Linked DNA regions of Homo sapiens. The protein of the gene in region 1 interacts with the protein of each later gene in a pairwise test. Each region holds a gene or a part of one and is shown on either strand. Other genes may lie near its edges. The genes, in order: LIME1, GAD2, CLN6 and PTPN9.

Evidence for each region.
Region 2: the proteins of LIME1 (region 1) and GAD2 interact in binary tests that used the Homo sapiens proteins (3 or more experiments, as listed by UniProt).
Region 3: the proteins of LIME1 (region 1) and CLN6 interact in binary tests that used the Homo sapiens proteins (3 or more experiments, as listed by UniProt).
Region 4: the proteins of LIME1 (region 1) and PTPN9 interact in binary tests that used the Homo sapiens proteins (3 or more experiments, as listed by UniProt).

What each region holds. Positions count from the first base shown.
Region 1 is NC_000020.11:63,731,974-63,739,603, reverse strand, and holds LIME1 (lck-interacting transmembrane adapter 1), read right to left. Parts: upstream 2,941-7,630; 5' UTR 2,892-2,940; intron 2,072-2,891; 5' UTR 2,055-2,071; coding exon 1,957-2,054; intron 1,784-1,956; coding exon 1,702-1,783; intron 1,632-1,701; coding exon 1,544-1,631; intron 1,422-1,543; coding exon 1,105-1,421; intron 1,007-1,104; coding exon 704-1,006; 3' UTR 501-703; downstream 1-500. Other genes in the region: ZGPAT (zinc finger CCCH-type with G patch domain-containing protein), read right to left, coding at 3,685-3,823, 4,040-4,445, 4,780-4,959, 5,865-6,017, 6,252-6,385.
Region 2 is NC_000010.11:26,289,765-26,296,785, reverse strand, and holds part of GAD2 (glutamate decarboxylase 2), read right to left. Parts: intron 4,322-7,021; coding exon 4,214-4,321; intron 3,885-4,213; coding exon 3,795-3,884; intron 1-3,794. UniProt on the Homo sapiens protein: Catalyzes the production of GABA.
Region 3 is NC_000015.10:68,226,729-68,234,239, forward strand, and holds the start of CLN6 (ceroid-lipofuscinosis neuronal protein 6), read right to left. Parts: upstream 3,001-7,511; 5' UTR 2,857-3,000; coding exon 2,774-2,856; intron 1-2,773.
Region 4 is NC_000015.10:75,499,296-75,506,316, forward strand, and holds part of PTPN9 (tyrosine-protein phosphatase non-receptor type 9), read right to left. Parts: intron 6,709-7,021; coding exon 6,380-6,708; intron 3,745-6,379; exon of another isoform or gene 3,708-3,744; intron 95-3,707; exon of another isoform or gene 1-94. UniProt on the Homo sapiens protein: Protein-tyrosine phosphatase that could participate in the transfer of hydrophobic ligands or in functions of the Golgi apparatus.

The DNA.
Region 1 (7,630 bases):
GGTCGCTCCCGCGCTGGCCTAGGGAGGGAGGCCCGGCCCGGCACAGCTCCGAGGCCTCCGCCCACCTCGCGCGCCCGCGCGCCCCGCCGGGGAGGGCCCGTTCCCCACGGGCGCGCTCGCAGAGCTGCCAGAGCCGGGGAAGGGGCCGCGATTGCTTGGCGGGCTTCCCGGCAGCAGGTTACTCTTTAACGCTCGACTGCCCACCTCCACCACCCCTTATGTAACACCAGGCTGGGTGGCGGAGCCCTCCCGTGGAGTCCAGGGTCCAAGTCCCACCCGGGGGCGGCCACCCTGCCGGCTGCGCTGCCCCCTAGGAGTGGCTGGGACCCCGTGCCCGCACTGACCGAGAGTCTGGCCGGCAGGAGCACCGCCTCGGCTAGGCCCGGGCGCCCCGGGGGCAGCCAGTCCCCCAAGGCCAGAGGGGACAGCTCCAAGCCTTCCAGAGAAGCCCCCCGCCCCAACCCGCCCAGCTTTCAAGAAGAGCAGGCTGCGAGGCTGGCCGCTTTCATCCTGCGCTGGCGCTTTATTTAGACGCGGGCCTTCTCTGGAGCCCGGGGAGGCCGCGGCTGTCAGAGCGGCCAGGACCTCACGGACCTCACGGGCTGGCAGCCCGGGGACCTGGGACTGGCGCTGTCAGCTGTGAGGCGGGGCGGGGCGGGGGACGGGCCTCACTCTGGAGGAAGGAGCACAGGTCCTTGAGTGTTCAGGGCAGGGAGGCAGGGAGGGGTCTCCAGCCCCTCCCTAGGCTGGGGCAGCTGGAAGCAGGGGGCGTCCCAGCCCCGCACGTGCTGCTCCTGCCAGCAGGGTCCCCCAGCTCCCGGATGCTCTCATACACGTTTTCCAGGGGGCCGCTGTCCACATCCAGGGCCCTGAGCGGGAGGGTCTGGTAGGCCAGGTCACCCGCCAGGGCCAGAATCGCTCCCTGGCCCTTGGGGTCCAGCGGGTCTGTGGTGGGTCCTGGGTCCCTCCTTTTAGGCTTGCAGACCCTGGAGTACAGGACGTCCACCTGGAGACAGGAAGCCAACCCGAGGAGGGGTCAGCACCATCCAACCTGCTGAGGATCTGCCGGCCCCACCCACAGCGCCCTACCCTGGCCCACGTTACCTGAGCGGCCGGGGTCACCTCAGTCTTCCCCTGCTGTGGCTCTTGGGGACTGCGATGGGTCCCTTTGCGCTTCTGGACGCGGGCATACTCGGCCACCACAGGGCTGGCCGCCAGGCTGACCCCGGGAAGGGCCGCCAGCCCCACGTTGGAATAGGTGGCCTCGAGGCCAGCGCACCCTGCGGTGGCTGCAGCTGCCGGCAGAGCCCGGGGCAGCTCCTGGTGTGGGAAGGCAGAGGGGGCTGCCTGCGGTCCGGTGATGTCCCTGGACACCTCCAGCCAGTGTGGGCGCAGGAGATCCATGCTGGCAGGCCGCAGGGCTGGGGGTGGGGTCAGGGCAGAGTTCACTCCGGGCAGGGGGCAGGAGCGGGTCTGGCCCAGGGGTTGGCACGCGCTGCACAGTAAGCCCCGCCCGGCCGCCCCCGCCCCGCCCTCTGCTCACCCCTGCTGCTGCGCGGGCCCCGGTGCAGCTCGTGCAGTCTGGTGTCCGACTTGCTGAGGGAGCAGAGGTGGGTCCGCCTCAGTAGGGACTGGGGGCGAGGAAGGCTGGTCGGTGCCCTGCGGACCCCACCCTGGTCCCCGGGACAGCCTGGCACTCACCGCTTCCGCCGCCGTCGCACTGCCCTGCAGCCTCGCCCGCTGCCTCCGCGCCCTCTTCCTGGGGGCTACAGCGTCCTCGGGCCTTGGGGGTAGAGGTGGGGGGCGGGGGGCGGGGTCGTCAGCCTCGGGTCCAAGGCCCGGTGCAGGCGCGCGTGCCGAGCTGGGTGCGCGGACCTGCCTCCAGCCCCTTCCCGCGCTGGGCTGTGAATGGCAGCCGCAGCGAGGCCCCAGACAGAACGCGGCTGAGGGACCTACCTGCGGCAGGCTGTGCACAGCGCCCACAGCGAGAGGAGCAGGGCGCAGCACCCTAGAACCCAGAGGGCAGGAGGGGCCCAGGACACTGGCAGCCCCATCCTGTGAAGCCGAGGCCCTGGGGACAGAAGAAAGGGGCGCTGGGGGCTGGCCAAGGGGACCTGGCGCCACCTGGCAGCCCCAAATCTGCACCTCCCGCGGCTGCGGGGCTCCTGCGTCTCCCGTTCCAGCTCTGACTCAGCACAGGAAGCCCCAAGGCCTGGCAGTCCCTCCCTCCCAGAGGTGCCCACCTTCTGGCGGGGGCTCCCGGTGAGGTGAACTAGGGCTGCTCTGCCTGGCCCCTCCGTGTCCCTGCGGGTGACCACGGTAACACCCAGCACGGCCGTGAGGAGGGGCAAGACAGCTGTGGCCACCATAGCCCAGATAGTAACCAGCATCGGGGGAGCCCCTGGGTGTGCGCCACAGGCCACAGACTCCACCTGCAGCCACCCTCTGCCCAGACATGGTCTCCTGTGTCAGGTAGTGCCCCCAAGCCGCTCGCTGCGGAGCCCAGAACTGGGAAGAGCTGGAGGCTGGTCAGCAGGAGGGACCCTGCACCCGGAGGAGCTGGAGGCTGGGTCAGCAGGCAGCAGCAGCTGCTGGGGGTGCTGATGCCCCCACCCCACTTCTCTCTGGCTCTTCTTGTCTGCCAGTGTCTCTGCCAGAGAGGATCTGTCCCCTTCTTGGGGATCTTAGCAGAACTTCTCGGGGTGGGGGATGCCTTACAAACAGCACAGTCCAGCAGCAGAGACAGAAGCTGGGGGGTGAGGGGTGGTCTCTGGAGTTTGGGGCCAGTCTGCTCAGACCCAGGGAGTGGGCTTCAGCCTGGCTGACTGACCCAGCTGCAGCCACATCCCAAGGCCTCCCAGACCCCAGCTGCCCCCCAGGAGGGCACTTACCAAGCCCACGGCCAGGGGTCCTCAGCTCTGTCTGGGGCAGGCCAGGAAGGTCTTTGTGCAGCCCTCGGCTGAGCTCCCCACCTCATCACTTCCTGCTCCTGTCGCCAAGCGCCTCCCCTGAGCCTCCCACCCTGGGCAGCAGCCACCACCGCAGCCTCACCCACCTGCTGCGCCCCGCCCGAAGCCTAGATGAAACGTGTGCGCCTCTAGCCCGCACTGTTCTGACAGCCTAACTCACAACCCCTCCACACACGAAGACGTGAGCAGAGCTGGCACAGAACCCCCAAACCCACAGGGCCAGGTCCGCCTGCCTCACCAAGAGTGCCCCACGTGGTGGGCCACAGTCCTCTCCCGCCCGTCTCGCCCGCTGGAGCAGCACTGAGCTCCACCCATCTGTGGGTGTCAGGCAGCCTGGCGGGCACCCTGGCCTCCGATCTGCCTTGGTCAGAGAAGGGTAAGAAGGGAGAATGCCGGCCTCCTAGGCCCCTCCAGCCCAGCCCGTCTCTCACCACAGCCCTGCACAGACCCTTCTCTCCCCAGAGACCCTGCAGCCAGCTGATCTCCACTGAATGACACTGTGATGAAATCACTTTAATGTCCTTGCCAAGGAAATGCCCAAGACACTGGCAGGTGGGCAAGTAAGTGTCCAGATGGGACCCCGCAGCTCTGTCTCCACTCAGCAGTGTCTGCACGCCCCAGGCCAGCAGGCCGGCCCCTCCTCGGGCAACACTGGTCTTCCTGAGGGCAGCCCGTGCTGGGGTCCCACGCTTCGTCCATAGTGCTTGTGGGGTCTCTAGAACTCAGTCATCTTCTTGTGGGTGTCTGCCTTCCTCTGCTCCTGCTGCAGGCCGGCTTCCTGAGCCCGGAGCTGCCCCAGCTGGCGCTGGGCTCCTGCCAGCTTCTCCTGCAGCTGGGCTGACGCCACGCTATGCCTGCGGAGGGGCTCACTAGTCAGCGTGGGGTCCTGGGCCATGCCACCAACCCCAGTCTGCCGTACCCACTGCCTGTGTGCCCGCTGCCCGTCCTCCAACATGCAGACCCCTCCTGGACTCAGCCCGCTATGCTTGGGTCAGGTGACCTCCAGCATGTATCCCGGGGGCAGGGCCACCCTGGGTCGCCCTTTGCCCTGAGCTGGGCCCCACACGTACCGGCCAGCGTTGCGGGCGAGAGCCTCCTGGATGCTCCTGATGTCCCGCTGGGTTCGCTCGATCTTCTCCTCAGTCTGGAAGAGCCGCAGGCTCAGGGCCCGCTTGGCACTCTTGCTGGCATGGTACATGTCCTTGCTCCTCCTCCCCGCTGGGGCCGCCCCGGCTTCTAGGGCCCCAGGAGCCTGACCTTGCAGCTTTTCATTGAGGAAGTCAAACACATTCCGAGGAGCTGGGCGGCCCCCAGGCCTGGCCCCTCTTCCCCGGCACCTGGGGGGCTTGTTGGTGCCAGCCTTGCCAACCCTGGTCTGCTTCTGCAGGGTCTCCACACACTGGTCCAGCGACTTCCCTCGAGGCAACACCACAGCATGGATGGGCTCCACCCGGCCTTCCGCGTGTCGGCCCAAACCTGCGGAGGCACGGGGATGGCAGTGCTGTGGCTGCGGGACCCCGGGAATCTGAGGAGCACGGGGATGGCAGTGCTGTGGCCACGGGACCCCGGGAATCTGAGGAGCACGGAGATGGCAGTGCTGTGGCCGTAGGACCCTGGGAATCTGAGGAGCACGGGGATGGCAGTGCTGTGGCCGCGGGACCCCGGGAATCTGAGGAGCACGGGGATGGCAGTGCTGTGGCTGCGGGACCCTGGGAACCCGATGGCTGCGGGACCCCGGGAACCTGATGGCTGCTGGACCTGGGCTATGCTGCAGCAGCCTGCCCACTTCTCCAGGGCAGCTTGTACTCACCCTTGCCAAACTCATAGCCCATCTTGGTGAGGAGTCTGGAGCCTATACCTCGCGTGTGCACCTCCCAGCCAGCAAAGGCAGAGCTGCAGGTCCCAGAGTCCACAGCATCTGACCCCACCACTGCAAGAGACGGACAGAGGGCAGAGGACTGTGCAGAGTCCACGGCGTCCGACCCCACCACTGCAAGAGATGGACAGAGGGCAGTGGCCCAGCCAGGCCAGAGGATTGTGCATGGTGACCCGGGCTTTGACCAATGAGCTCAGATCCTGGGCAGAGCCACGACACCCCACCTCTTGGGCTCCGTGCTCTCGTCACCGAGGCTGCTGTGGGCATGTGACACCAGGCAGAGTGCATGGCAGTCCCCACGGCCTGCTGCACCGTGGCCCCTCCTCCGCAGCCCTCTCCTGCCCCTGCCCTTCTCCACCTTCGCGAGGCTGTGAGCGCCTCACCTGCCCTCACAGAGTCCTTGGTTCAGTCCTCCTTCACCAGGGACATGGGGCTTCAGAAACCACCATCACTGATCCCTGGGTACACCTCCAACATGCAGACCCCTCCTGGACTCAGCCCGCCATGCTTGGGTCAGGTGACCTCCCACATATATACACACACACGCACACGCATACACACACCCCTCTGGAGAGCTGGACACTGCCCACCAGTTCCCATTCCCGAAACTTCCATGCTGGCTGTCTGGACACAACCTCTGTCTGCCAGGATCCCAGGCACCCAGGTCCCAAGTCTGAGAAGCCATGCAGAGGAGCTGCCCCTCCTGCACTCCAGGCCCCATCAGTTGGTCATTTTCTGTGACTTCCTCGGCAACTCCAGGCCCCTCCTCTCCCATGGCCACAGCCACGACCATGGCCTCCCATCAATGAGACTGTAGCTGTTGCACCCACACTCCTTGAAGATAAAGGCCGCCACGGATCTACCCCTACCCACACGGCCTCCTCAGGCACAGGTGGCACCCTCGCCGCAGTCACACACTCTCCAATAGTTTGGTTAGATGGTTGGTGCCCTCACCGGCCAGGAGCCTCTCAGGGTGACCCCACCTTCCTGGCTCCTGGGCTCCGCAGCTGCTGCCATACCTCTGGCATAGCTGGAGTCACCCGTACCGTCGCTGTCTGAGTCGGACTCTGTGGCCTCTGTGCGCAGTGGGGGCAGGATGCCGTCCCCCTCCACCACGGCCTCCCTCAGCAGCAGCGAGTCAAACTTGACTGTGTAGTAGCCGTTGTCCACATCTGGGGGCAGAGACAAGCTGCAGGTCAGAATCCTTGACAGCAGGTGCCACTGAAGGGAACCACCCTGGACATGAGGAGCAAGGCAGGGCAGAGGCTGAGGGTAGGTGTGCTCATTTCGGGCCCAGAGCCAGAGTCCCGACACTCAACCCAAAGGAAGCAGGGAGCAGCCACACAGTGACAACACACGTGGGGCCTGGGAGGGTGTTCCCGGGAGGCCCCCACGGCCAGCCTCACCGGTGATGCGTGCTGCGTGCCAGAGGCCATCCTGGTGCTTGGCCAGACACGCAGAGCCGGCCTGCAGGGAGCTCAGGTCTGGGTCCTGGAAGGGGCGCAGCTCATCCAGAGAGACCACCTGCCCATGGGAGAACCTGCAGACAGAGCCGTAAGGGGCAGGGCTCAGACATGGGCCACCAGGGGCAAACCAACCCAGGAGCACTGACCCATCCGCCTGGGCACTGTCCTGAGGGAGACAGACACACACGCGTGCGTATACATACACACTCTCACACACTCACGCACACACATACACACGCACACATACACACACACATGCACACACTCACGCACACATACACACATGCACATATACACACGCACATACAGATACACATGCACACATACACTCACACATACACATATATACACACTTGTGCATATACATGCAGGCATATACACACACATGCATATACACACGTACACATACACGCATACGCACACGCGCATATACACATGTACACACACATGCACTCACACAGGCACACACAAGTACACATACACACGCATAAACATGCACTCACATGCATACACACACGCATATACATACGTACACAGGCATACACACACATATACAGACATACACATATACACATACACAAGTACACATGTATACACATGCATACACACATGCACACAGGCATATACACATGTACACACACATTAACACATGTACTCACACGTCATACACATACACAGAGACCCTGACACGCGTATAAACATGCACTCACACATGAACTCATGCAAATACAGATGCAGTCATACATGGATATACGCACACGCCATCTCACCCACACGCGCGCACACGTGCCCTCACCCACACACATACGCCCTCACCCACACACATGCGCACACAAGCACCCTTACCTACACACATGCGCACACATCTCTCACCCACACACACGCACACACAGGCCCTCACCCACACACATGCGCGCACACACACCCTGACACATGCACACACACACCTCACCCACACACGTGCACACACATGCCCCCTCACCCACACACATGCACACACACACGCCCTCACCCACACACATGCGACCTCTCATCCACACACACGTGCACGCACACATGCACCCGCACCCAAACATGCACACACAGATGCACCCGCACCCACACATGCACACACATATGCAGTCACCCACACGCGCACACACATGCACCCTCACGTGTAGACTGTCACGTGCACTCACTCATATATGCATATACACATACATGCACACACATGGCATGCATATACACACATGCATATACACACTCACACTTGCATACACACGTAGTCTCTTGGTATCCATGGGAAACCCCCTGTGCAAACCAAAATCCAAGGATGCTCA
Region 2 (7,021 bases), on another chromosome or scaffold:
AAAGTCCTCCAATCAGTGTAGGACTATAAAAGCTGACAGAACCAGATAATGATCAAGAATAAAAAAAATTAAAATAAGAAGATAAAGAACCAGAAACACAAGAGGTGATCAATAGACCAGCCCTTTTGATTCTTGTTTGGTAAACATTGGCACAGCCCACTTGCTGCCCCTCCCTGTGTCCAAGGCATGTGTGTGGCGTCACATCCTCATAGTGCCCCAAGCATTCATCATCTGCACTGCCTCAGGGACAAAGCGCCATCTGCAAGATCATAGTCCTGACAGAGCAGCAGGAAGCACACTGACTGGATTCTCGTGTTTACCACCCTCATGAAGATATGACTGTATTTGCTTTATTAATAACTTCTGTTATCCAGATATTTGTCCCCAAATAGTGCACTCTGGAAAAAGGCTTATGAGCCACTATTAGGTTTCCTAAATGTTGTTTCCCTTCCTTATTCTGGAATATGCCTAAGGTATTTGCTATAGACTGAATTTTTCTGTCCTCCCAAAATTTATATGTTGAAATCTTAACCCCTCAATGTGATGATATTAGGAGATAGGGCCTTTGGTAGGTGATTAGTTCAGGAAGGCACAGTCTTAGGGACCCCAGAGAGCTCCCTTGACCTCTTTCTGCCATGTGAGGATACAGGGAGAAAAAGGCCATTGACGAACCAGGAAGTAGGGGTTCCAGCAGACACGGAATCTACTGGCACCTTGATCTTGGACTTCCCCGCCTCTAGAACAGTGAGAAATAAATTTCTGTGCTTATAAGCTACCCAGTCTATATTAGTCTGTTTTTGCAGCTCAACCACGCTAAGATACAATTTTAGCTCAACAAACGATTTTTGAGTTCCTATTGTGCACTACAGCTATGAATCAGGCAAGATGGTACAGAGTAATTTCTCTGCCTTGTCTTGTCCAGAATTTAACTTTGTTCTTTTGGTTCACATAAACTGCACAGGAAACTCTGCATTTCCCCAAATTTTGAGTCTATATCGGCCTGGACCAACAGAACTCTGTGCAGTGATGGAGATGTTCTATATCTGCACTGTCCCATAAAACAGCCATTGGGCACAAGTTGAGTGACTGAAATGTGGCTAGTGTGATTGAAGAACCAAATTTTTGGTTGAATTTAATTTTAATTGATTTAAATTTAAATATGAATAGCCACATGTGGCTATTACTACCATACTGGACAGCATAGATTATTTCACCTCAGTTCTTTTCCCTCTGGGACTGTGTGTGTGTGTGTGTGTGTGTGTGTGTGTGTGTGTGTGCATGCGTATGAATATTTTACTGGTTCCTGGACATGATACTTTAAGGGCGTCACACTTAATAAAGAACTTTCCAGAAAGTCTGAAAAAATCATTGGCATACGTGAACAAAAGTTAAACTTGGTATTCATGTGGTTCTATTTTCATTTCCAAATCTGAATTGCTGAATTCTCTTGATTACAGTAATAAAATTGGAGAAAAATCAGGAGAATTCATTCTGCAATCCCCGGAGATTTTCATATTTGAATTGTCAACAGTATAAAAACAGTTTACTAATATTCTAATTGCCATCTCCAGGAAATAATCTCCATCCCCATTCTTCATTACAGCTCATATGAGGTGCTGAAACCTAGGAGGCATTTGAAGAGTGATATTTAAAAGGGGGAGCCTCCAAGTTGACTTTTGTTCAGAAAATGATGAAAAAAAAAAGTTTTTATTCTGTATTCCCATCTTGCTCCATCCCTCAGCCCAGTGATAATGGACTGATTCAACAAATGAAATCAGCCAAACTAGTCCATGGATTCTCTTTCTGGCCAGTCAGTTCAATAAGGAAGTGAAAGCCAAAAAGAATGGAGGCATCTAATTTCTAACTGGTTAAATAAGTCATTGTTAAGAAATTTTACATTATGAAGGTATACCATAAAAATTCCAGGAAAAATAAGAATTTTTTCCTCTCAAATGACAGCAGACACCCGCACCCCCTATTCTCGTTGTTATTGCCTGCACCGATCATCTTATCCAATGCGACCTCTACTCATTCCCTCCCACCCTGTGGGCTTGATTTCCTGGAATGAACCAACTTCACGAAATCATCAAACACAACCACAGCCCCTTCCATCTCAGACACATGCACCACGGATCCTGGTTCTAGAAGCTTTCTTCCATTTTTTCCTCTAGATCAGGGGTTCTCTAGCTGAGGTGCACATTGGAATCATCTAGATAACTTCCAGAATCATTCCCAGGCCCATCCAAGCACAATCTGATTACATTTTCAGGGTGAGACCTGGTCACTAGTGTCTTTTATGAAGTTTCTGGATGATTCTAATGTATGGCCAGGATTGCAAATCACTACTCTAATTAGGAGGCTTGGTTTAAAGACCTCAGCCATATGGAAGTTTCCTCCCGATGAGGAGTTTGATCTTGGGTTGCTTAAGGACAGATGTTAACACATAAAAGCTTTAGTGAAGGTTTTATATCTACACAAAATCCTCTTCTTCATTTTACGTAGAAGGAACTAAAGTGTTCCCAAAGGTCAGTGAGACAGCCCAAGCTCCTGAGCAGTGAGGGGACAGCCTGCGGGGCTCTTGGCAGTGACTGGAGGAGGTTCCCTCTTTTATGATAAATGAAAAGAACCCCCAAACCAACCAAATCAACTCTGAGATCCAAGTCTACATGACCATCCCTAGTTTCGAATGGGGGACAGGTCCTGCATATACCCCGCTTCGATGTGCACTGTAAACCCCATTTCACCCATGTATAAGTGCTGGGAGCAGGAGAGGATGAAAGATTAATGGTGTCTTACCACAGTACCATTTAAAGCTCAAGCCCTTAGGCTCGGATGCAGACTTTCTGCGAGATTTTGGGAGTTACATTTTCTCCCTGTGGGTCAGTTTCTCCATCAGCAAGATGGGTGGACAATCCTTCCCATGTCAGGTTGCTCTGAGGCTTTAAGTGACCTAACACCTGATATTGAGCTGGGACACAATGCACACTCAAAACAGTGGCTGTTATTATTGCTCTTTGCCCTCTTACCTTCTAGGGGTCACCACAGCTCTAAGGACACACCCAGGGTAGCCTTGACCTTGGCAGCTCAAGAGGGTCAGCAGCAGCGTTGTTTGCTAACCATTTCTGGTACCTAAAGTCTCTTTTGTGCTTGTAACTGAGCACCAGTTTCACTTGGAACATCAATGAACTTCAGCAACGTCCTTGTTGCTTTGTGAATGCCAGCAAAGGTTATCGCCTGACTACTTCTTTCAAGACATCATAAACTCACTCTCAGAAAACAAGCAAATAGAGTTGTTAAAAGTCTGCATAGGCCGGGCACAGTGGCTCATGCCTGTAATCTCAGCACTTTGGGAGGCCAAGGTGGGCAGATCACCTGAGGTCAGGAGTTCGAGACCAGCCTGGCCAACATATTGAAACCCCATCTCTACTAAAAATACAAAAATTGTCTGGGCGTGGTGGTGAGTGCCTGTATTCCCAGCTACTCGGGAGGCTGAGGCAGGAGAATCGCTTGAACCCGGGAGGTGGAGGATGCAGTGAGCTGAGATCACGCCACTGCACTGCAACCTGGAAGACACAGTGAGACTCCATCTCAAAAAAAAAAAAAAAAAAAAAAAGAAGAAAAATGTCTGCATATATCAGGCTCTATATGTCCTGGCTCTGTAGGAGTCCACAGACGGGAATGGGCCCATGTACCCAGGTAGGCTGTCTCCTAAGGCCACAGGCATATGTCATAAAGAAGATGTGCACATGAAAGGCTCAATACACACATGTATCAGAGGAGCTTGGAGCACTGACCTTCGAGAGGCGACTCATTCTCTCTTCATTGTCTTCCAGAGTACGCAAGCTTGGAGGAATGTACCAGAAGCAGACATTTGTGTGCTGAGGCTACAAAGAGGAAAGGAAGATTCACATTTGGCCCAGGCTGGCAATTTTGAAAATTCCAAGAACATTTCAAATCGATGTATTCAGCAGGTTCAGAACACAATTCCCACTTTTCAATCAGGAATTGCCATTGGAGGGCATGATTTTGACAACGTTATATGGACCACTTTGAGAGTTTCGTCTTTATTCCAGCTTGGAATAGCTACCCCGTCATCCACTGCTCCCCTCTGTAATCGTCCCACTTACCTGGACAGCACATCATTTACATCATATCAGTGATGAGGGTTGGAATTGACTAAACTTTCTGAGATTGTAGAAATCCAAATACATACCTTCCCATCAAACACCATCTCATATCCTTCTCGGTTTTTTATGATGTTGTATAAATACTCTGCCAACTCCAAACATTTATCAACATGCGCTTCAAACCCGGTAGTCCCCTAGGTAAGAGAAGGACACAGCTCATTAAGCAGGCTAAGAGTGCGGAGGAAGCGATTTCCCTGGAGACTGACCGTCATCCTGCCGTCTCTGTCTTAGCCCCGTCTGGCACTTTCTCAACACAAGGCTGTTTCCAAAGGCTTTTTCAGCGCTATTTTCTCTTCAATGCTCTCCCCGTCAGGTGCTTTTGTTCCCTTTCATTACTGCTTTCTACACGGAACTCCTTTTCTTCCAGAGCCTCCATTCCCCAGGCAATTAGTTTGACTACTCAAGAGGAAAATGTGCCTCTGCTATTCATAGGAATAATCATGGAAGTCATTAATAACAGGAGGGCTGAGCTACTCTCTTCCTGCAGATAAAAAGCATCACCAGAGACCCCCCAGAATGCCTGCTTAGTTCCCCTCCAACGTGCACATTTTCCATTCCCAGAGCCCATCTTTGTCTGCCAGTGTACCTGATACAGAAAAAATTGGGTAGGTGCTCACTGACTTCATTGAACAAATGGATGCAGGAATTTTAGGGAGCACCCAGATGCTTTGTTAGCCTGTCGAGCTCTGTACAGTTCTCCTTTGGGGGCAGATAAATGACTCACGTGTCTGTAATGGGTGAACATTATCACTGATTTCTTTTAGTTTCTGGCTCTGGAAGCTCTGAATCCAGACTTGGGAAAACCAACACAACAGTCTTGGACTGGAGCTGTTTAACTGACATCGGGACACACAAGAGAGTTACTTTTCAAAATGGCTTTCCTCTTATCTCCTTGGGTGTTTACTGGGTGCTGATGGAGAAAGCTTAAGAGTAAAAGCCAGTGCTCATCTCAGAAGCACTTTGAACCTGCCTACCAGTAACTTCTCCAGCAGAGAACCTAGAGAAAGCAATTGTAATGGAGATGAGATGGGCCCACTTGCCTGTTTCATACAAGATCACATCATCTCAGCTAAGGGGGCCCAACATAGCCCAGTGACTTGTGACATCTGAAGCAGGTTTAAGAACAAGCTGCCCTGGAGATATCAAATGGGTTCAGAAATTCACTTCTTTGGAGACTGCTCCCCCAGGTAATCGGCTCAAGGAGGCTGATGGGTTCCTGATGCCTCCCCAAGAAGAGCTTGGGCTGATGCCTGATGCTTGGCCAGCACCCATACCAGGAGCTCTCTGCATCTATGGGTGCTAAGGAGATTATAATTGGTTTGGAATGACCTGACAGTTTGGGTTCACTTGGGATGGACTGTAGGTAGAAGTGAGGGAAGCTAATTGCTCTTCTCCAACCTGGATCCTTTGGACCAGTCTGGAGTTGGGTTTAAACTTTTGCATATCTGATCTAGGATATGGCATGACCAGCTTGCCTCTGACCCTGTCCAGATGAATGGCTTTGGCCAACTCTCTGATCAGATGGGAATGATGATGCCTCTCTGATTTCCCATGAAGAAGAGTTTGCACTGCAACAGCAATGGGATTACTAAAGACCTCTGGTTCCCCTGGTCTGGGACCTTGCTATGGGGATGATCATGGGCCATGTGACTGCCCCTTTAGTTGGGGGCTAAAGATATACATGGGGAATGACACAGAAAACTCTAGTGTGCCCTGGGTGCCTCCCGTTCATATTGAATATTTATGGGATTAAGATCCACATTTTATTTTCAAGGTTTTGAAGGCTTTTAGGAGATTCTTCAAAATTCTTTCATTCATTAAATACTTCAGCAATCTCACCATCCAAGTGTTCAGCTGCTGCCTCTATGTGGTCTTGGGGTTTGACATCTTGAGAGCTGGTCATGATCATTCTCCACTTCTTGAAATGCTTTTATAAACATTCACAGGCCCCAGAGACAGTGCTTTTGAAATAACTACCGAATCCCTTGCTGTTATCTCAATTTTTGCTGCTATCACCCTAGTTCAGGCTCTGTTACTTTTCACCTGGAACATAGCTCCCAAGTCGCCCTTCAGTCAATTAGACTTTCCCTCACTTTCATAATATGCACTGAACTCCTGCTCAACCACTCCGTGGAATGGCCTTCTCACAGCACTGCTGGGTGAAATCCTACTTCTTCTACCTATCCTGTTCAAGTCCTATCTCAAAGGTCATCTCTTTGTGAATCATCTTGATTCTTAAACCAGGAATGAGCTCTCCGTCCTTTAAATTCCCCAGATGTGTCTGGATTTCTTTTGTGATCAGTCCTAATCTGTCTTTTATGATGGATTTCTGTGCATTTATCTTATCTTGTCTGGAAAATGAGAGCCTTCTTATCCCATTCAGTACTAGACACGATAATAGATGCTGAATATCTACTTGTTAAAATAAATTAATATTTTAGAGAGAAAGTAAACATTCATTTTCAGCAAAGGATGCCAGATGTCCATTTCCCTTTAATATTTTTTTCCTGGTATTTTTTTTCACAGCCATTTGCCAGTCCCTCTGTTATCCACATTTTTAATTAGAAAAGCTAATCATAAAAAAACCACAAGGAAAACTGACTATTTGTATGACTACATACAAACACAGAGATTTGCTATGAAACCTTGGTTGTTATAAATGAAGTTATTCCTGCAGGCCTGAAAAGGGAATGTAGGAGAATCGCTTGAACCTGGGAGATGGAGGCTGCAGTGAGCTGAGATCACGCCACTGCACTCCAGCCTGGGCAACAGAGCAAGACTCCATTTCAAAAAAAAAAAAAAAAAGGTGGGGGGGAGATGTAATTTTAAGTTTA
Region 3 (7,511 bases), on another chromosome or scaffold:
TGCTGGGATTACAGGCATGAGCCACCACACCTGGCCAGTAGATCGTATCTCAAGGGTCGTGGTTTAATTAATACATGCAAAAACTTAAGAGCAGGGCCTGATCCATAAAAAGTGCTAGTGTTTTTTATTGTTATAAACATATTATTTGGAAATAGGAATTTGACTCTGGAAAAAAGAGCTAAAAGAAGCTAGGGTGATTGTCTCTGGTGCTAGGGAAGAGTGGGACAGGGATTACTACTTTTTAAAACTTGAAGCCTTTGCTATTTGATTTATCACGGGCACTAATTATAATACTTTCTTTTCTTTTCTTTTTTTACTTTTTTTTTTTTTTGAGACAGTCTCACTGTCATCCAGGCTGGAGTGCAGTGGCGCCATCTCGGCTCACTACAACCTCCGCCTCCCAGGCTCAAGGGATCCTGGTGCCTCAGCCTCCTGAGTAGCTGGGATTACAGGCATGGGCCATCACACCTGGATAATTTTTGTATTTTTTAGTAGAGACGGGGATTCTCCATGTTGGCCAGGCTGGTCTCGAACTCCTGGACTCAAGTGATCCACCCACCTTGGCCTCCCAAAGTGCTGGGATTACAGGCGTGAGCCATGGCACCCGGCCTAATTGTAACACTTTCATTATAATACAAAAACTGGCAACAAAGCAGGTGGACGTTGGAATGGGTTACCTTAAGAGGTAGTGAGCAAAGCACGGATGCAGCAGAGGAAATCCAAGCATCCTAGGAACTGGACAGGATGATTCTGCCTACTCTCTTGAGCAGCAATGATACTGGGAATGGGCTGAAGCCACATTGTGGGGGGCAGAGACACCCTGGGAGACAGAGAGCTCCCACCCTCACACCACCCCCCTGGGAATACCCTGGCTGGTGGGGAGCTCACACAGGGGAAGAGGGACATGACTCCTTAGCAGCCAAAGTGGAGTCGTAAGAGCAGAGCCCGTAAGTCAGAAACCCTGGGTTTAGGCCCTGGTTCTTGCCAGCAAATGATGTAACCTCTTTGGGCCTCCATTTCCCCATCTGTACATTGGAAGTGACATCTGGCAGCTCATTGTCAAGACTGAGTAAGATGCTAGACATGGGAGCCCCACACAGGAGATAAAGTGGTGACCCTATCTGAGACCCACAGGCTGTTCCCATTGGGCTGTCACAGTTCAGGGCAGTCAGTGACCCCCAACTTGGCAAGGATTCGGAACAGAGACATCCCGCAGGCAGAAGAGGCTGCCTGGAAGAGGGGAGCTGGTAAATGGGTTGGGTCACAGCAGAGATGAAACCACTGGACACGGCGTGGGGCAGACAGCCCGGGGACTCAGCCAGTCAGGCTCCTCAGCCCATCTAAGCCTATTTCCTCATCAGTAAAATAATACTTAACTCACAGGCCGAGGGAGACAGGTGAGCTACAGTATGCGGTCTATGGCCAGTACATTGTTTCTAAGTGAAAACGGACACAGTCCGCAGCTGCTCAGCCCGCATGTCCGCAGCAGCAGAAACGAGCCATCCCTCACCTCAGCCCAAGCGCTCAGACTTCTCCCTTCATCCAGGTCGTACCAAAAACTTCCTAACAAGGACTTTGCGCATGCTAGTGCTCAGAAACTTCTCACGACTCCCCAGTGCCTATGGGATAAAGACTGTGTCCTTAACCTGTCACCTAGGACAGGAACTAGGGTGAGACAAGCAAGGCCTCCAAGGCCCAACATTTGAGGCGGCACTCACGGTCACGGCAGTGCGCCTACCCCTAAGTTTTGCAATCTAGGTCCTCAACTCGAGTCCTAGACTTGCTGCAATTAAAGGCCCTTCACAATCAGTCTGCATCCTCCTGTCACTTTCTTTTACAGCCGGAAAGCTCCAGCACCACTAAACTCCTTGCCCTTCCCCACTGTTTCCCTGGATGGAACAGCCTGTCTTCCCTGGGTCCCCTACCAAGTCCTCTGAGACTCAGCTCAAGTGCCACTTCCTCCATGAAGCCCTCCAAGATGACCGCTCACTCCCACTTGGGCTCTGTCTCTCCTGATCCCTACAGGACCGTAAGCCTCTCCCACCTTCACCCTGCCTACCCCCTTACTGCCTGGCACAGCGCTGGGCATACCACAGGCGCTTAAAGAATGCCTGCTGAATGCAGTGAATGTTTCTGGTCAGTAAAACGGGACGAAGGTAGAATGGAGCTCTGCTCGCCCAACGAGATAAACCAAAAACTGAGAAGGGCTCCTCATTCATTCTCTGGACGGCAGCTTCCGCCCTTCCCCGCTGTCTCTTCCATTACATTCGCACATTCTTGGGTGCCCCAGGTCAAGCAGACAGCCTCCTGATAAATGACAGAATCAAGTCCTACTCAGGGCTGGAGGGACCCCGAGAACGCGGAGGTGGCGCCCGGAACTTGCGGATAAGTTGGGGGTCCGAGTGACGAGGTGTGTGTACCCACCGCCCTGGGGAGCTCTCCCAGCGCAGCGGCTGTCCCGGCGCCAGCCCGGGTCGCTGGAACGCGGGAAGGGAGGAAAACCCCAAACTTCGGGCGGGCGCTCCTCCCACCCGAGCAACGGCGAAGCGGGGAGGCCGAGCCCCGCTGGGCCCCAGGCTCCCCAGACAGAGAAGGAAACGCGGGGGCACCGCCGCCACGGTAGCGCGCCTCCAAGCCCCCCGCGCTCCGCTCCGCCCCGGCCAGCGCCGCACACGAGGTTCCCGCCCGGCAGCCCTAGGAGCGTCACGTGGCGGGTCCCGAGGCCCCAGCGCACAGGCGCCTAGCCCGCCCTCTCACCCCGGCGCGCGCCCACCTGGCCTGCAGGAAGGAGGCGCCCAGCTGCGCGCCTGGGCCGCCCGTCGCTCCCAGGTGCTGCCGCCTCCGCGTCGCCTCCATGGCTGCCCCGCAGGCCCCTCGGCCCTGCCTTTCCGAGGAAGAGACCGGTTCAGCTCGGCTGCCCCGGCGGAGGCCGCCGCAAATTCCCAGCGCGGGGCGGTTCGGGGCGGGCCGGCGAGAGCGCGCGGCCCTCGGGAGGAACAGGCGGGGCTGCGGACCCGGGGCGGGGCGGAGCGGAGCGGAGCGGAGCGGAGGGAGGCGGGGCGGAGGGAGACGGGGCGGGCTCCGCTAGGGGAGGGCCGGGCGCTGCGAGTGTGGCGTCCTCGCGGGGCGGGGGCTGCTGGCCTGTCCGGGCTGCGCGCGTGACCACCAGCGGGCTGGGATGTGTTAGGGTCCCTTGCCTGCCTGGGTACGGGAATCTCTGTCTAGGGTGACTGAGGCCTGGGTGTTGGGCTGGGGCGGGGTAGCGACCTGGAGATAGACTAAGCTGATTTAAATGCTCCCCGGGGCAGAGGGTTCTGTGGGATTTCCCTTGTTCTTACGGGTGGAGGAGAGGAGGCAGGACTGGAGACCTGCACGTGTAGCACCCGCGTGGTGCAGCACGTGGGTTGCAGATGTTCTAGTGAGGGGCTGGCGGTGACAGTGGGAAGGAGCGAGTTGGTGACATCTAGAGTCGTGTGAGAGGTATGGTGACTGGGACTCTGGATGTGGGGGGTGAGGGGAGAAGAGTTCAGGCAGTGGCCGGATTCTGCCCCTGGGTGGATAGTGGAGGCACCCCCCGGGAAGTGGGCTAGAGCAGATTTCGTGTAAATAAAGATTCATCTTTGAACGCATTAAGCTTGAGGTGGGTCAGGAAGGCTGTTGGACCGGTGGTCTGAAGCTGAGGCGAGACCTGGGAACCCAGTGGACAGGCTCGTGAGTCACCGGAGCATACAAGACAGACAGAACCTAAGGGGACAGCATCCTCAAGTGAAAAACAGAACCAAAGGTCAAACCTGAGAACAGCCTGCAGGGCAGATTGCCAGGACTTCATTAGTGGTACCACTTTGAACTAGCTGTGATGCGGGCAAATGGCTCAACCCCTCACAGCTTCAGTTTACTCATCTGTAACAAGAAGATGCCTATTGCATCTACTACATTGGAGTTGTGATGACTATATGAAACTCTTAGCAGAGAGCCCAGCACTGGTGGACTAAGTTATTTACAATAGCCCGTCTCGAGACCTGAGGTTTCCCTCCACAGAAAGGTTACCTTCCACACCACTGTCAATGTCACAAACTCTCTCCTCCCCACGGTCACTGTCAGCAGCCCAGGCCGCTAACTAGAACAACTGCAACCAACTCCCATTCTCCCCACCACCCCCGTGCTACACCAGGCGCACACGACATGTGCAGGTCTCCAGTCCTGTCTCCTCTCACCCAGCCCTCAAGCCGCTGCAGAAGGGATGTGCCTCTTGGAAGGGATGTGCCTCAGATGCAAATGCAATGTGCCATTCCCCTGCCCAGTATCCTTGGTCTGCTTCCCAGACCATGAGGGGTCTGAGCTATGCCTATTTCCATTCTATTTTCTTTCCTGTCTTTCTTCTTGGGAGATGTTTATTGGATTTATTTCTTTCCCCTTTGGTCAGAACCTGCATGTCCTTTCTTGGCTGTGGGAGGCTAGGACTGCCTGCCTGGGAGTCATTTTCCATCAGCCCCATCCTGGGCTCTAGCAGCCCACAGGCCACACCTCAATCCCCCCCCTCCGCCCCTGGTCCCCTGAAGAACACATTTGCTTTAAAGCTTTCCTTGTTTCATTTGATCCACACACACCAGGTCGTAAGGAGAACAGGTGATTGTCTCTGTTTTGTAGCAGAGAAAAACCTAGGCCCTGAGCTGAAGTACTGTGCCCAAGGGTCAGCCAAGGACAGCACTCAGACGGGGCCCCAGATTTAATTCTGGTGAATCTGATCTACACATCGATCTCGGTATACACCAGAGAAGAAGGATTGAGGCTTCCCGCTCTGACCCCAATTTCTTATCCTCTGCAGGCTTTGCAAGCCTGCTGGGCTCCAGAGGGAGGGGCATGCAGTGCCCATGATGTCATCATCGATTTAATAACACTCAGAGGTGGGCTTCCAGCCATCAGAGGATGAGGCCGTGTGGAGGGAGCCTCTCTAGCTCATTTAATCCTCCAATCTCTTAAATACAAACACATCTGCCTTTTTTCTGGAGTCCGCTGCTACCCCTTGAGGGGAGGGGAGTCCAACCTGGCAGGGGGCTGGGCCTTTCTGAATGAACAAGATGAGAATTCTCCCTGTCCGGTGGGATTATCAGCCCCCTCTCTTTCCCATCCCACCAGGACACTTTAAAAACACCATCTTCATTAGCTCTTTAAATTGCATGGAAATTTGGGGGAGGAGGATAGAGTAAAGCTGAGGGGTACACATTTGCAGGATCTTGTTTGTGATTATCTGAGAACATGGGCCCTGCACATCAGAAGGGAGTCTAGTCTCAGCTCTCTGAGCTGCAATTTCAGTGGCCAGCATCAAGAAATCTTTCAGCTGAGAAGGTCCTTTGGTATTATGCATCTTGGTGGTTTTGACTTTTCTTTTAGTAGAGGTTCCCACTACTTTTCAATTATAGCTGTATCCGATATTTTTTTTTTTTTTTGAGACGGAGTCTTGCTCTGTCGCCCAGGCTGGAGTGCAATGGCACGATCTCGGCTTGCTGCAACCTCTGCCTCCCTGGTTCAAGTGATTCTCCTGCCTCACCCTCCCAAGTAGCTGGGACTACAGGCATGCACCACCACGCCTGGCTAATTTTTTATATTTTTAGTAGAGACGGGGTTTCACCATGTTAGCCAGGCTGGTCTTGATCTACTGACCTTGTGATCTGCCCGCCTTAGTCTCTCAAAGTGCTGGGATTGCAGGCGTGAGCCACTGCACCAGGCCTGTATCAGATACTTTTAAATGTATCGCCTAAGATCCGTTAGACACACCAGTCTTCCAGCTCCTTGCCACTTGTTTTGTCCAGCTGCTGTGACAACTGACTTCACCCAGGCAGAAGTCAACTGCACCTCCTCTCCCCTTGGCCCCACACCCTTGGCCTCAGAAGTGCAGGAGTGTTGGACACTCCATGGAGTGAACTTTGACCAGCAAGAGACAGGGATTAGCAAATAAATTTTTCTCTCTTCCTCTTTCTGGACAGACTGGCCTGAGTTCCGAGTTCACACAGCCACTTTAAAGAAGGTCCTGGGCCATGCGCAGTGGCTCACACCTGTAATCCCAGCACGTTGGGAGGCCAAGGTGGGTGGACCACGTGAGGTCAGGAGTTCAAGACCAGCCTGACCAACATGGTGAAACCCTGTCTCTACTAAAAATACAAAAACGAACTGGGTGTCGTGGCATGTGCCTGTAATCCCAGCTACTTGGGAGGCTGAGGCAGGAGAAATTGCATGAACCCAGGAGGCAGAGGTTGCAGTGAGCCGAGATCACGCCACTGCACTCTAGTCTGGGCGACAGAGCAAGGCTCAGTCTCAAAATAAATAAATAAATAATAAAGAAGGTCCTGTAAGGTCTAGCATCCTTCCAGACGGAGTGGTGGCCAGCTCCGCAGTGCACTCTCTTGTGTGCCCTCCCTTCTCCTCTGTCTCACTCCCCCTTGTCCTCACTTCCCCTTCCCAGCCACCACACTCCCCAATACAGTGTTAGCATACATGCTGCCCTGCTCTGCTTCTTTGGAAACCTGGGCTAAGACAAAGATCTTTCCAGCATGCTCAATGTATGAAACACCTACGGGGGGGTGGGGGGGGTGGTGCCCTGAGTGAAGAGAAGCAGGGTCCCAGGTGCCATCTCTTCTCCCCTTATGGTTACAAGGCCGTGGCCAAGTCACCTCCAAAGGGCTCCCTGGAAAGCCTTTGATCTTGCCTAATTTCATCATTCTGCAGCTGCGGAAAATGAAGCCTAAAGCCACACAGCGAGTTAGAAGCCAAGCCAGGCCAGAATCCAGTCTCCACTCCTAATCCAGTACCCTTTCTATCCAGTCTCTTAAGAGCTTTTGAAAATTTCTCTTTCTTCAAAACATCTTCCCACACTGCCCTGCCACCAGAAGGCTTTGAAGGCCCCTGCTAGACTGCAGCTACCATCTGAGAGACATGACACACAGAATCCTGGATCCAGAGGCTGGGACTCCAGAAGGCAGACAGACGAAGTGGGACCAGGAAAACTCAGTTACTTTGGAGAGAGGCAGCCAGGAGGGGCCTGACTAGGGGATCTCTAAGTGTGGGCAACAAGACTGTGCACAGTGAGAAGGCTGCACAAGGACAGACAGCAAGGGACTGGGGCACTGGGGGAAGATGGAGACTGTCTTTCTGTGTCAACTGGTATTGCCTGCAGGACACTCCCCATCTGGCTGAAGAAGCTGGGAGGGTGACCAGAAGTCACACTGTGGGGAGAGAGAAGGTCCCCAGGTTGTGTTTAATTCAGATTCTTGTGGTTGTGATTACTAGAAGCAACGGGGGACAGGTTGATGACAAAAGGGGATTTCTATTACAAGGATTTAGGGGTGTCTTAGGGAACCTAAGCATAAGGATGCAGTTGGGCCTCAGGAACTGAGAATGGTGCTGGGACTTTGGGAGCCCAGGAAGGCACCACCCACAACACTGTTTCCATGTCATCCTTCTCTCTTTCTCCCTGCAGACTGGCTTTCCTGGCTTTCCAGGAAATACAGCAGCCG
Region 4 (7,021 bases), on another chromosome or scaffold:
CAATAGGCAAGACTAGGAAGTCCTCTCATTAGATGAGAGATCTGTTCTCTGATTGTCAAATGGTAGCTGGTTTGGATGATGGCAACAAGACGATCTAAACCCACTTTTTTTTTTTTTTTTTTTTTTTTGAGACAGAGTCTTGCTCTATCGCCCAGGCTGGAGTGCGGTGGCATGATCTTGGCTCACAGCAACCTCCGCCTCCTGGGCTCAAGTGATTCTCCTGCCTCAGCCTCCCAAGTAGCTGGGACTACAGGTGCGTGCCACCACACCCAGCTAATTTTTGTATTATTAGAAGAGACGGGGTTTCACCATGTTGGCCAGGATGTTCTCAATCTCTTGACCTCGTGATCTGCCAGCCTCAACCTCCCAAAGTGCTGCGATTACAGGCGTGAGCCACCGCGCCCAGCCAAACCCACTTTTTTAATGGAGGAGGGGAGACTCCATAGTAGAAATGACATCTCAAGGGCCTCACAGCAGCTGGTAGTTGCAAAAGCACCGAGAGCAAGGTGAAGAATCCCCAGGATAAGTGTGCATCCTCTTAGATCAGCCTAGCATGCCTCCCTGCTCCAACATATTTCCTTGATTCAAGACTGCAAGGGAGGCTGGGCATAGTGGCTCATGCCTGTAATCCCAGCACTTTGCAGGGCTGAGGTGGGCAGATCACTTGAGGTCAGGAGTTCGAGATCAGCCTGGCCAACATGGCAAAACCCCATCTCTACTAAAAATACACAAATTAGGCCAGGCATGGTGGCTCACGCCTGTAATCCTAGCACTTTGGGAAGCCAAGGAGGACGAATCACCCGAGGTCAGGAGTTTGAGACCAGCCTGGCCAACACAGTGAAACCCCATCTCTACTAAAAATACAAAATTAACCGGGTGTGGTGGCACACGCCTGTAATCCCAGCTACTCAGGAGGCTGAGGCAGGAGAATTGCTTGAGCCGGGAGATGGAGGTTGCAGTGGGCTGAGATCGTGGCACTGCACTCTAGCCTGGCCGAGAGTGAGACTCTGTCTCAAAATAAATAAATAAATAAATAAACAAACATACATACACACACACACACACACACACACACATATATATACACACACAAATTAGTTGGGTGTGGTGGCACACACCTGTAATTCCATCTACTTGGGAGACTAAGGCACAGAATGGCTTGAACCCACAAGGCGGAGGTTGCAGTGGGCCGAAATCATACCATTGCACTCCAGCCTGGGTGATGGAGTGAGACTGTCTCAACAACAACAAAAAAGACTTTAAGGGAATAACTGTTCTGTTTGCAAAAGAGATTGGATATAAACAGGGAGTCTGGTAGTTGGGTATAGGTAGCACCCATAATTCCAGCACTTTGGAAGGCTGAGGCAGGAGGATCACTTGAGCCCAGGGGTTCAAGACCAGCCTGGGCAACATAGGGAGACTCTACAAAAAATTTAAAAAATTAGCCAGGCATGGTGGTGCATGTCTGTGGTCTCAGCTACTCAAGAGGCTGAGGCAGGAGGATCAATTGAGCATCAAGAGATGGAGGCTGCAGTGAGCCATGATCATGCCACTATGCGCCAGTCTGGGGGACAGAGCAAGACCCTGTCTCTAAAAAAAATAATAATAATAAAATAATAAATACAATAAGTAAAATGAAATAAAAATTAAATAAAAATAGGGGTCTGGAGCTGGTAGGGAAGAAACAGAGCTGTATGAGAGAAAAGAATAATTTCCCTTGTTGATATATGGTCTGTGTCCCCTTTTTCTCCTCTTATTTTCCTTTGCATTCTTGATCTGATTGACTTCTTTCTCAAGTGCCTCTTATCTCTTACTTTCCCTATCTCATTATTTTCCCCAACTCATTATTTTCCCTCTTTGCTTTGCTAAAAGACTCTATCCCTGCATCTTATTCAGAACACACTGACTACACTGGACAGGAGTTACAAGAGAGAAGAGGTACTCACAGAATCCTAGATTTCTAAAACATTTAAGCTACAAAGGTAGGTGAATATCAGAGTCCAGTAGTCACATATTATACAGAGGAAAACCAAAGTGCTGAGAAGGGAAATAACTTGTGTCACTCACAGAGGGAATTTTTGGTTAAGTTGGAATATGAGGCTGGGACCCACTAGGATGGCTTCCCTCATTTTCTTTCTTTTTTTTTTTTCCTCTTCTTTTCTTTCTTTCTTTTTTTTTTTTTTTCCTTAGACAAAGTCTTACTCTGTCACTTAGGCTGGAGCTCAGTGGCGTGATCATAACTCACTGTGGTCTTGACCTCCCGGGCTCAAGTGATCCTCCTGCATAGCTGGGACAACAGGAGTGTGCCACCATGCCTGGCTAATTTTTTCGTTTTTTATTTTTGTAGAGGTAGGGTCTTGCTATGCTGCTCAGGTTAGTCTCAAACTCCTGGGCACAAATGATCCTCCTATACCTTTACTCCCAAAGTGCTGGGATTATAGGCATGAGCCACTGCCCCCAGCCCTAGTTTCTGTAGTTTTCAACAGTCACAGCTCACTAGCTGGAGAGAAAGAGATTTCTGGGGCAGCCAATTAAAACATGGTAAGAGAAATGACAGCAACATGGTAAGAGAAATAATCTGACCAGGTGCGGTGGCTCACACCTGTAATCCCAACACTTTGGGAGGTTGAGGCAGGAGGATCACTTGAGCCTCGGAGTTTGAGACCAGCCTGGGCAACATGCCAAAACCCCATCTCTTCAAAAAATAAAAAATGAGCTGGACATAGTGGCACATACCTGTAGTCCCAGCTACTCAGGAGGCTGAAGTAGGAGGATCGCTTTAACCTAGGAATTTGAGGAAAAGAAAAGGATAAAAGAAAAGAAAAGGAGAAGAGAAGAAGAAAAGAAGAGAAGAGAAAAAAGAAAAAGAGGCCAGGTGCGGTAGATCATACCTGTAATCCCAGCACTTCGGGAGGCTGAGGCAGGCAGATCACCTGAGGTCAGGAGTTCAAGATCAACCTGGACAACATCGTGAAACCCTGTCTCTACTAAAAATACAAAAATTAGCCAGGCATGGTGGTGCGCGCCTATAATTCCAGCTACTTGGGAGGGTGAGGCAGGAAGAATCGCTTGAACCTGGGAGGCGGAGGTTGCAGTGAGCCGAGATCGTGCCATTGCACTCCAGCCTGGGTGACAGAACGAGACTCCATCTCAGAAAGAAAAAAAAAAGAGAGGGAGGGAGGAAGGAAGGAATTACAGGTGTGCGCCACCACACCCAGCTAATTTGTGTGTGGGTGTGTATATATATATGTATGTATGTATATATAGTTATCAACTAGTTACGAGCCAGAGTTATAAACTAGCGAGATGGTTTTGTGATAGGATTTGAGTAGAATGAAAATCTCAAGGGGTTAAAGTCCTATGAGGCAACTGTACTCTCTGACTGTGGATTATTTTAAGTGTACCACATACCCCTCCTCAAGAAGTAATGTTATACCATAAATGTTATGGGGAGAAACTGCCCAAATGAACAGACCAGCACTCACACTGAGTACTGGAATAGAGAGTAGCCTATTTTGAACCTACTTTTTTTAAAAAAAACTTGCATTTCAGAAAAATATCCAAAAATATGTCCAACAGGGTTATCCTGTTGGTACCAAAGACCTTCAGAAATTTCAGAGCATAGGATGTTAGCAAGAAGCACCCAATGGTGCCCAGGCTGGAGTGCAGTGGCGTGATCTCAGCTCACTACAACCTCCATCTCCCAGCCGCCTGCCTTGGCCTCCCAAAGTGCCGAGATTGCAGCCTCTGCCCGGCCACCACCCCGTCTGGGAAGTGAGGAGCGTCTCTGCCTGGCCGCCCATCGTCTGGGACGTGAGGAGCCCCTCTGCCTGGCTGCCCAGTCTGGAAAGTGAGGAGCGTCTCTGCCCGGCCGCCATCCCATCTAGGAAGTGAGGAGCGCCTCTTCCCGGCAGCCATCCCATCTGGGAAGTGAGGAGCATCTCTGCCCGGCCGCCCATCGTCTGAGATGTGGGGAGCGCCTCTGCCCCGCTGCCCCGTCTGGGATGTGAGGAGCTCCTCTGCCCGGTCGCGACCCCGTCTGGGAGGTGAGGAGCGTCTCTGCCCAGCCGCCCCGTCTGAGAAGTGAGGAGACCCTCCGCCCAGCATCCGCCCCATCTGAGAAGTGAGGAGCCCCTCCGCCCGGCAGCCGCCCCGTCTGAGAAGTGAGGAGTCCCTCTGCCCGGCAGCCACCCCGTCTGGGAAGTGAGGAGCGTCTCCGCCCGGCAGCCGCCCCGTCCGGGAGGGAGGTGGGGGGGTCAGCCCCCCGCCCGGCCAGCCGCTCCGTCCGGGAGGGAGGTGGGGGGGTCAGCCCCCCGCCCGGCCAGCCGCCCCGTCCGGGAGGTGAGGGGCGCCTCTGCCCAGCCGCCCCTACTGGGAAGTGAGGAGCCCCTCTGCCTGGCCAGCCACCCCGTCCGGGAGGGAGGTGGGGGAGTCAGCCCCCAACCCGGCCAGCCGCCCCATCCGGGAGGGAGGTGGGGGGGGGGTCAGCCCCCCGTCCGGGAGGGAGGTGGGGGGGTCAGCCCCCCGCCCGGCCAGCCGCCCCGTCCGGGAGGGAGGTGAGGGGGGGTCAGCCCTCCGCCCGGCCAGCCGCCCCGTCCGGGAGGGAGGTGGGGTCAGCCCCCCGCCCGGCCAGCCGCCCCGTCCGGGAGGTGAGGGGCGCCTCTGCCCAGCCGCCCCTACTGGGAAGTGAGGAGCCCCTCTGCCGGGCCAGCCGCCCCGTCCGGGAGGGAGGTGGGGGGCTCAGCCCCCCGCCCGGCCAGCCGACCCGTCCGGGAGGGAGGTGGGGGGATCAGCACCCCGCCCGGACAGCCGCCCCGTCCGGGAGGGAGGTGGGGAGGTCAGCCCCCCGCCCGGACAGCCGCCCCGTCCGGGAGGGAGGTGGGGGGGTCAGCCCCATGTCCGGGAGGGAGGTCGGGGGGGTCAGCCCCCCGCCCGGCCAGCCGCCCCGTCCGGGAGGGAGGTGAGGTCAGCCCCCTGCCCGGCCAGCCGCCCCGTCCGGGAGGTGAGGGGCGCCTCTGCCCAGCCGCCCCTACTGGGAAGTGAGGAGCCCCTCTGCCGGGCCAGCCACCCCGTCCGGGAGGGAGGTGGGGGGCTCAGCCCCCCGCCCGGCCAGCCGACCCGTCCGGGAGGGAGGTGGGGGGATCAGCCCCCCGCCCGGCCAGCCGCCCGGTCCGGGAGGGAGGTGGAGGGGTCAGCCCCACGTCCGGGAGGGAGGTGGGGGGGGTCAGCCCCCCGCCCAGCCAGCCGCCCCGTCCAGGAGGTGAGGGGCGCCTCTGCCCTGCCGCCCCTACTGGGAAGTGAGGAGCCCCTCTGCCCGGCCAGCCGCCCCGTCTGGGAGGGAGGTGGGGGGGTCAGCCCCCCGCCCGGCCAGCCGCCCTGTCCGGGAGGGAGGTGGGGGGGTCAGCCCCCCGCCCGGGAGGTGAGGGGCGCCTCTGCCCGGCCGCCCCTACTGGGAAGTGAGGAGCCCCTCTGCCCGGCCAGCCGCCCCGTCCGGGAGGGAGGTGGGGGGGTCAGCCCCCCGCCTGGCCAGCCGCCCCGTCCGGGAGGGAGGTGGGGGGGTCTGGCCAGCCACCCCGTCCGGGAGGTGAGGGGCACCTCTGCCCAGCCACCCCTACTAGGAAGTGAGGAGCCCCTCTGCCCAGCCACCACCTCGTCTGGGAGGTGTACCCAACAGCTCATTGAGAACGGGCCAGGATGACAATGGCGGTTTTGTGGAATAGAAAGGGGGGAAAGGTGGGGAAAAGATTGAGAAATCGGATGGTTGCCGTGTCTGTGTAGAAAGTAGACATGGGAGACTTTTCATTTTGTTCTGTACTAAGATAAATTCTTCTGCCTTGGGATCCTGTTGATCGGTGACCTTACCCCCAACCCTGTGCTCTCTGAAACATGTGCTGTGTCCACTCAGGGTTAAATGGATTAAGGGCGGTGCAAGATGTGCTTTGTTAAACAGATGCTTGAAGGCAGCATGCTCGTTAAGAATCATCACCACTCCCTAATCTCAAGTACCCAGGGACACAAACACTGCGGAAGGCCGCAGGGTCCTCTGCCTAGGAAAACCAGAGACCTTTGTTCACTTGTTTATCTGCCAACCTTCCCTCCACTATTGTCCTATGACCCTGCCAAATCCCCCTCTGCGAGAAACACCCAAGAATGATCAATAAAAAAAATAAAAATTTAAAAAAAAAAGAAAAAAAAAAAGAAGCACCAAAGCAGAAAGTACCTCTTTCTGCATGCGAGAAACCATCATTTATGTGAGAGTGATGTTCCCTAACATAAGGAAGGGTCTCTGCTAAGCAAGTGAGGGGTGGAAGGAGCTGTTGCCAGAGCCTACCAGAAGCATCCTGGTAACCAGCTGCTGGCCCAAACTTTTTCTACTTACATGGAACAGTGGAAAGTGCCAACAGGGTTCTCACGACGAATGTCTTCATATTCCTCATAGATTCCTTGCTTTTGCCTGGCATTAACATAGTCCACCAACTCTTGGATGGTCATAGCATGGGGACCTGGAACATGTACTGAGTCCCAGTCTAAGGCAGGAGGGAGGGAGAACAGGATGATCTCATCGAAGGGATCTGGGTGGCCGTTCACCTGGGGTAGGAACTGGAAATTCCAAGTGGCGAGATCAATTTTGACGTACCCACCCAGGTTTTCTGGAAGACACTCCCTGGGCAGATGCTGCGTGACCTCAGATGTCTTTAATATTTGAATCTGGAAGGTTAGAAAGAACCATGTGAGTATGTGGGAGGAGGGAAAGGCATATAGAGTGACAAAGAATAAATGTATTTATATCAGGTTTGGAGGATGGGATAAGATTTTCTTGAAATACAAGGTATACTTGTAAAAGTAGTAGACTACATTTCATCTGCCTGAGATTTAAGTCCTATGAATTTGCCAGATAAAAGTGTGAACTCCCAGAATGTATATAAAATTCACTCCTGGAATTAGGGACACTGTTATACATCTTCTGAAAGGACGATGTAGTGAACAAAAGCTTTATATTATTAACAAGGCTTCCCAGCAT